Homo sapiens: one gene and its partner. The protein of the gene in region 1 purifies or fractionates together with the protein of each later gene. This does not show direct contact. Each region holds a gene or a part of one and is shown in the gene's direction. Other genes may lie near its edges.

Evidence for each region.
Region 2: the proteins of FRAS1 (region 1) and CA10 purify together in Homo sapiens (co-immunoprecipitation; one large-scale study listed by IntAct). This does not show direct contact.

Annotation. Positions count from the first base shown.
Region 1 is NC_000004.12:78,476,811-78,480,620, forward strand, and holds part of FRAS1 (extracellular matrix organizing protein FRAS1 isoform 1 precursor), read left to right. Parts: intron 1-1,004; coding exon 1,005-1,251; intron 1,252-2,563; coding exon 2,564-2,908; intron 2,909-3,810. UniProt on the Homo sapiens protein: Involved in extracellular matrix organization. Required for the regulation of epidermal-basement membrane adhesion responsible for proper organogenesis during embryonic development. Involved in brain organization and function.
Region 2 is NC_000017.11:52,155,653-52,160,260, reverse strand, and holds the start of CA10 (carbonic anhydrase-related protein 10 precursor), read left to right. Parts: upstream 1-1,546; 5' UTR 1,547-2,474; coding exon 2,475-2,535; intron 2,536-4,608. UniProt on the Homo sapiens protein: Does not have a catalytic activity.

The DNA of each region.
Region 1 (3,810 bases):
CTGTTTGAGTAAAATTTTTGCAGATTTGTGTGTCCCCAGACATTTATGTCTGTTTTTTGTACATATTTCAGTTATCTCCGTTTACACAAAGTATAGTCCAGGCTCATTTCCTGCAGTTTCAGTTTTGGGCAAGTCCATAGTCGTGGTTTCACTTGAAGATTTTTAATTTCTTTCTTTTTAAAAAAAAAAAAAAACAAAGTAAAACCAGAATAAGTCCCTATAAGTTCACAATTGTGTACATATAAAATAATTTCTCTGTTTTGTACTGGGCTAAATTGATTCACATTTTAATGGCAAAGGGTGTAGTCAAAATATCAAGTTAAAATTAGTCTACCTTGTTTATAATGTAATTTTCTATGAATTTAAATTCCATTATTCAGTACACTGGAATTCTATGTCAATTTTAATTGTGTAAGTAATATGGTGATACTAATGATAATATCTTATGTTTGTTTGGTACTTTAAAATACACTTAACACCTTCATATACAAGACCTCCTTTAGTCCTCCCAAGAAGCGTATGAGGTAGGAATATTATGACTTTTCTTTAGTTGATGAGGAATCTGATGTTTGTAAAGCTTCATAACCTAATACAGCTTGGAAGTAACAGAACCAGATCTGAGAACAGAACTTCATACTCCAAGGCCAGAGTTCTTCCAGAAAGGGAACTGAGTCATCAAATGATGACTGTTGCTGCCCCAAGTGAGATAATAAGACAGGCTATAAAGAGTTACTACATGTTTTTCTCCAGTCACCAATGGTAGGAGAGATTTTGCTCCTTCATGTCCTTATACAATAAAGCAGCCCTCCTGTACAGGTTAAGAATGGGAAGAGGTGGCTGGGTGTTCCAGGTGATGCAGCAGGGAACCAGGGCTGGGAGAACCAGCTATTTCAGTCAGTGCTCTGCCCACTGGACTTGGATGCTCTTTTCCTATGATGCCCTGGGGAAGCAGAGCAGGGGAAGCTGAGGCACAGCTTAACTTCTTGTTGGTTCCTTTGTGACAGGTCCAGTTTGATGAGCGAGAGGACACCAAGTCCTGCACCATTGTCATCAACGATGATGACGTGTTTGAAAATGTTGAGAGTTTCACTGTGGAGCTCAGCATGCCAGCTTATGCCCTGTTAGGGGAATTCACCCAGGCGAAGGTCATTATCAACGATACCGAGGATGAACCCACATTAGAGTTTGACAAGAAGATCTACTGGGTTAACGAGAGCGCTGGTTTTCTGTTTGCACCTATTGAAAGAAAAGGTCTGTTGGTTCCACAGGTGACAAAGAGCTATAATAATTGCTAACATTTATTGAGTTCCTATTATGTGCTAAGCACTCATCTCATGCATTATCTTAACTCACATGTGTACTTTCCACTTATTAACTCATTTGGTTCCCACAACAACCCTGATGATGATTCTATCCATAGTGACTACCATCAGAAAGCCTCTTTTCTTAGTTCAAGTTGTTAGAGCTCCCATTTACTCTTAAATTGGACTAGAAGACTGGTTATATTTAGCCTTCTAAATTATTCATGAATCAGTATTCTTAATCAATCACCCAATCCATAAAATATTTAGTAACCTTGGTCAAGGAGGGAAGTTACAGTTCATAAGGACTGGCTTTCCATCTTATTCTTGGAAGACAGAAATATGCTGAAAATTTCCCTATGTGACAGTCATATGTAGAGCTCAGATGAGAAATAAACTATGTGTAAGAAATAAAGGGCAATTCTTTTTTTGTTTTATTTTTGACTGATACATAGTAATTGTGCATGTTGATAAAAGGGCAATTCTTGAGGAGTTGGAAATAAAAATAAACATCATATGGAATTTTGATTGTGCAAGATTGAGACTTTAAAACACATGGAAATTGAACCCCCATTCAAAGGCACAACAAGACTGTAAATGATGATTTTGGGTTTCTTTCTTGAATCTGCTGACTGGGTATTAGTGTAACAAATACTGTAGATAGCAAAAACCCTTGGTAATGCCACTTGGAAAACAAGCAAGCCTCATTGATTGCTCTGGGCCACCAAGCCAGGCCCAGAACAGGCTGTCACCAAGGGAAGTGGCAGCCCTAATAAGTAAAGTCATTTGTATACAGTGGCAGATTTTATTTTGTTTTGTCTTTCTCTTTTTAAATAAGCCTGTTTCTTTCTGGGAATTAAAGTATAGAAGTTTATTCAGAAAGGCAGTGAACTGTGCTTATAGCACTACCTTCAGGACACAATTACTTTCCTACTTAAAGTACCAAATATGTGTCATATCTTTCCACCTGCTGTGGTCTTAGATGGTGGGCAATGAGTCTTGCAAATTAACAGAGCACAAAATTCACAGAATAGGAAATCCATTTTGAGTTGTTTGATGAAGTATCTGGGGTATATTAAATCCTCAAGTGGTTTATACCACAGGCTCAAAGAAACTGCAATTCAGGAAGGTTTTATGTCAGAGTTTGAACAGAAATAGTGATGGACTGTTTGGGAGGGACCAAGCTCATTAACTTACCAGAGGTTTTAAAATCTGAGAAGCACTCATTCAAATGCTTTGGTTTTTTGCCATTTGTATTTCAGGAGATGCAAGCAGCATTGTATCTGCAATTTGCTACACAGTCCCTAAGTCAGCTATGGGAAGTAGCCTCTATGCTCTAGAATCAGGCTCTGATTTTAAATCTAGAGGGATGTCTGCCGCGAGTCGTGTGATATTCGGGCCTGGTGTGACCATGTCCACCTGTGATGTCATGCTTATTGATGACAGCGAGTATGAAGAGGAAGAAGAGTTTGAGATTGCCTTGGCAGATGCCTCTGACAATGCCCGCATTGGAAGGGTGGCGACAGCCAAGGTGCTCATTAGTGGTCCCAACGATGCCTCGACTGTGTCCCTGGGCAACACGGCTTTCACTGTCAGTGAGGACGCAGGTAATGGAGAGTGTCTCTGAGTTTCCTTCACCTGTCTCCTGATTCCTTTCTTGAGCAGTTTTCTCCTTAGGTTTCAGAATATCCGGGAGACATTGAGAATGCCATTCCTCAGGGATACCACTGTTGGTCTAAGGCACTATATAATGCTTGGCCAAGACCAAGCATGGAATTTATTATAGAGAGTTCCATCCACTTTTCTTACTCTGATTTGTTTTAGTAAATTTTTGTGGGTACATAGTAAGTGTATATATTTATGGATTATATGATATATTTTGATACAGGCATGTAATATATAATAATCACATCAGGATAAATGGGGTGTTCATCACCTCACCTCAAGCATTTATCCTTTGTGTTATGTACAATCCAATTATACTCTTTTAGTTATTTTAAAATGTGCAATTAAATTATTTTGACTATAGTCACCCTGTTGTGCTAGGGAATACTAGGTCTTCTTTCTAAGTATTTTGTGTACCCATTAACCATGCCCACTTCCCCCCTCCACCACCATTTCCCACCCCCACTACTCTTCCCATCCTCTGGTAACCATCCTTCTACAACATGGATGGAAGTGGAGGTCCTTATGCTAAGTGAAATAAGCCAGGCACAGAAAGACAAACTTCACATGTTCTCACTTATTTGTGGGAGCTAAAGGTTAAAATCATTGAGGTCATGGAGATAGAGTGTAGAAGGTTTTACTCTGGTTCTTGATGGCAGGCAGGGCTGTGGCATAGAGCCTAGAGCTTCATGGGCTGACCTCTGTGGTCCAGAGGGAGGGCCTGGCACTGAGCATCTGGGCTTGTGAAAGGGGAGAATGTGATATATTGAGGATGGAAGTGAAGTATTTAGTGTACTGCTAGCTCCTGAACACTCTCCAAAGTTTCAGTGTCTTCATACAGTGA
Region 2 (4,608 bases), on another chromosome or scaffold:
GTGCTGGGATCAACACGGGAAGATTCACTAGATTGACTCTGTGCGGATGAACGGGCACCCTTTCCTTCCCCTCCTCCATCTCCACTTATCTACCCTTTGTGCAGTTCTTAGACCGAGGTTTATACTGAAATAGCTTCTAAACATCAAATATTAAAAGTGGATAAAAAATCCCCGCGGGGTATGTGTGTGTTTGTGTTTGTTATGTGTGTGTTCATCCGCGCTTGTGCAAAATCTCCTAACGTCACAGTTCCCAATCGGGACAAGCGCGCCGAGAAATCCTGGATCTTCCCAGGGATTCCCTCTACGCTCCCTCCTCTTCTTCAATAACCCCAAAGAGGTAGGTTTGAGCTTTCGCAAACCACCACTGCAGCGATGGAAGCAGACAAATCTGTTGAGATTTTGTCTTTCCCCTTTCGTTCCCAGCCCTCTTAGGCAAGCAGTTCTGAGCACAGGGTTTTCTTCAATTCCCCTGCATCCACACTGCAACCGGGTGCAAGTCTTTCCTAGGTTATAGACAGCCCGCCTCCCCACGAGACCTTCTGCGGACTGGCTGCCCCTGGCCTCGGCCTGGGTGGGTGGGTGGTGCTCGCGCCGCCCCTACTTTCCCCTGGGGCCCTGGAGAGCCGCGCGCTGGGTGTGTGTGTGTGTGCGCGCGCGGGTTTGGTGGGGAAATCTCCTTCAGTGGAAGCTGCTGAGTGTCGTTGGCGGAAAGTATCCTGGAGCCCAGCAAAAGCCTCCAAAGCACTAGAGCTTCCCTAAAGAAAAGCAGAATAAAAGAAAGACAAGAAGGGAAGCCCGTTCCTCTAAAGCCCGGGTTTCCAATAGTCCCGGATCCTCCTGGAGTTGGGCGAAGGCGCAGTTGGCAGCAGCCGCTGCTGGCACCCGGACTTGGAAAGGCGGTGTTCCCCCTTTTCGGGAGGAGGGAGGCAGGGACTTGCAGGCAAGAGTTGCACCTGGTCTAGGAACCTGCAGAGAAAAGAACTCTGGGGTAAGTAGTGTTCTGGCACTGGCACGGAAAGGGGTAAAGGGTGGGGGGCATGAGAGGGACGAAATGGAGAGGGCAGGGAATGAATTATGCAAAAAAATCTCCAATATTTCGCAGCGGAGGGAGAGCACAGCACAGCACTCCCAGGATGAGTCCTGCCTGGGTCTCCCGCGCCGAACCCGCAGCACGAAGTTCTTTTTAAGAAGAGAAACTCGAAAATCCTGGAGGGTAACAGAGGCAGCCAGGGCGGGGCGGAGTGCGGAGGCGGCTGCCAGGGACTGGGGCCGAGGCGGCGGCCAAGGTGGCCTGAAGCTGTGACACCCAGCCTCCTCCTCCTCCTCCTCATGGCCGCGCTCAGCCTCACCTCCCCGCCCGGGCCTCCTGCCTCCGCCCCCGGGTGCCGGGCTGCGGAGCTGACGCTGGGACGCCCGGCGGCGGCGAGGACGCTCACCTGGCCAAGCCTCCTTCTCCTCCTCCCCCTCCCGCCCCCACCTGTCCTCCTCCTCTCTGAGTTGGGAAGCGTAGGGATCCGTAGGCGAGGAAATAACGACCCCTGCAGTTGTATTGCGGAAAATCTCGACAGCGGCGCTAGTTGCGGGCGATGGAAGCCAGGCAACTGGGGGTTCTGGGGAGTTCAGGAAAATAGCAGAGGAGCAGGAAGGGCGCGCGCGACCTGGAGAGTCTGTGTGCCCCCACCGCGCCCCAGTCCCCGGGGCCCAGCCCTTCCCCTCGGCGCCCTGGACGCACTGCCGGAACCCGGCTGAGAGGCTGCAGGCTGCGCGCGGACCTGGGGAGCAGGGAGGGTCGGCGGAGGCTGCCGGCGGCTGGCGGTTTCGGGCAATAATCCCTGCCTCTCTTTCTCTGTGTGTCTGCTGTGTCTGCTCCTTCCCCGCCCCCCGGAAGCAGGAGAAGAACTGCCCCGGAGCGCAGCAGCCACCCTCCGACCATGCCCCGGTGAGGGGGGCGGACTTCGAGGGCAACTTGCCGCGGACTGCCTGGGCTTAGCCAGCGAGCTACGCGCTCCCGGGAGCCCGGAATTGCACGGCGCAGCCCGGCGGGGGGCTATCGTCTATGTCTTCTTGGGGCGCCAGACGAATCGGGGTCTCGTTTTTGCTGGAAGAGCCCAGTGTTGGTGGCTTCAGGTGGCTGCTGCCGCCGCCGCCGCCGCCGCCGCTGCTAGTGCGGTTTCCGCCGCTGGTGCGAAGAGAAGAGACACGCGAGCGGGGAGACCTCCAAGGCAGCGAGGCATCGGACATGTGTCAGCACATCTGGGGCGCACATCCGTCGAGCCCGAGGGGAGATTTGCCGGAACAATTCAAACTGCGATATTGATCTTGGGGGTGACTGTCCCTGGCCGGCTGTCGGGTGGGAGTGCGAGTGTGCACTCGCTCGGAAGTGTGTGCGAGTGTGTATGTGTGTGTGCCGTGTCGGGCTCCCCCCTTCCCCCCGTTTTCCCGTCGAGTGATGCACTTGGAATGAGAATCAGAGGATGGAAATAGTCTGGGAGGTGCTTTTTCTTCTTCAAGCCAATTTCATCGTCTGCATATCAGGTACGGGACGCGCCGAAGTCACTGGCTGATTTGGATTATGTTGTGATGTCTGGGGTGTATGGGGTTTTATTGTATATAGCCGCGGGGCAGAGAGAGGGGTGGCGAGACCCTTTGAGTTCTGCGGGTTTGCCGCCTTCAGAATCAAAAATCTTCTCAGCCCAAGGGTGTGTGAATGTGTGTGTTTTGCGGGGGGGGGTGGTTAGGATCTGTGTGCAGTCCTAGAAGGGTGAAGGAAAAAGTGGTGGGGGATGAGAAAGAAGAGGCAGATGGGTGTTGATTTTCAACTGCTTTCCTGGCTGAGAACTCTGGCGCCGAAATCCGAGCCTTGGCAACAACCACCCCCATCCCCTGGCTTTCAAAGTTCCCAGACTCGGTGGTTCCTGGCTGGCAAAATGGACGCGGGGCCCTGCCCGGGTATCTAACCACTTTCAAGAGACTGCGGGAGGATGCGGGACTGGAGAGTACCAGCAGGGATCAGAGATATGTCCTCCATGCCTTACCCAAACACATCAGGACTGATTGTGATGCTTTGAAACCTGCTGACACACCCTCCTCTACCCCCCCAATTTTCTTGTTAAAGCACTACAGTGTCACAAATACCACTTTCTTTACATCACGGTGTTTTTTAATTCCCAGTAGCAAGGATGTGCTGGCTCAGACCTCTCAGTCTACTTGGGCCTGTCTGTGCTTTTAAGAGCAAACGGGATTTCAGGGTGTTGAGGTGAAAGAGGTTGGGCTTGTGGACACCTGTGCCTGAGTGTGTTAGGACGAGTTCTGGTTTTTGAGCACTGTCTTTGTTGATGCAGGGAATTGGGGTTGGGAGGAAGCTGGGAGGGAAAGGGGAAAGCCCCTGGACCAGCAGTATTCCCCAGTTCAGTGGCTCCTCCCATTGAAGGCACCCACCCCATTTCCCTTCACACCTGCCACTTAAGCACCCAAGGAAAAGCCCATTTGTAGTGCTCCCTTCTGCCTGCATTCTTCTGCAGAAGTGGGGACTCGGCCAACTTCCCATGAAGTCATCAGAAGAGGAGAGCAGGATATTGCCCCTTTGAGCAGCCACATTTAAGCAGCACTGGGGTGGAGAGACATGTTTCCTGCCTCTTCCTTCAGCCCTGTCAATCCCCTCCCTTTAAGCCAGACCTGATTCTGGATAGGAGAAAACAACCCTAGTTCTGCCCTCACCCTGGACTCTGTTCCAAATCCCAGTCTGGCTTCCAATTTTCTCCTCATAGGGAAGGAATGGGACTCTTATCCGAAATCATTCTGTGTGGGGCTTGGCTACCCTATTAAGAAATTTGTCTCTGTGATACATCAGTGAGATGTGTTGTGTACCTGGCAGACAAGAAAATGTGCCCTGGGGTCACCCCAACTCCTCTAGTGGGACTTCTATTATTCCATTCTGCATCTAGGAGTGAAAATTCTCAAGTGACTTGTAAAGGTTTATATCAGTCATATGTCCAGATATGAAGTGGGTGGCATCTCACAAGGCCATATTTTACATCTTTCTCTTCTACATGTCTATTTCAAACTCTCTCTCTTGTTCCAGAATATTTGACTAGTTATAAAATAGCCTTTCCTTACTTCTCCCCAGTGTCATTAATAATTTTCAAATCAGACAAGCCATCTGAGTACCTTTAAGATTTATAAAGGGTTAACATTGATTAAGGCTCTGGATTTCCTCCAGCATCCTCTCTGTCCCCAGCCCTTACCCTGAATTTCGCCAGGCAATCACCGAGGGGAACAGGCTGAGAAAGGGTCTGATCTTAGCCTCCAAAAAAAGCATTAGTGGGATACCTGTCACAGCTATATTTGATTTGGTGTATCAGCAACTAAATTATTCAAATGGAAGCATTAGGAGGGGGATTTCCAACTCAGGAGGAGTGCTATGGAGTACATGGCCTTTCATATGTATTTACTAAATAATCATTATTGCTATGTAATGAGAGGATAAAAGTGTAAGCAAAATTGCTAGCTATTAGCTAAACACAGAAAACTAGGTTAGCGTTCCAAATGCCTAGTTAGGATCTGCATTAATTTGCACTTTATGAAGACATTTAGGCAGGGATGCAACAT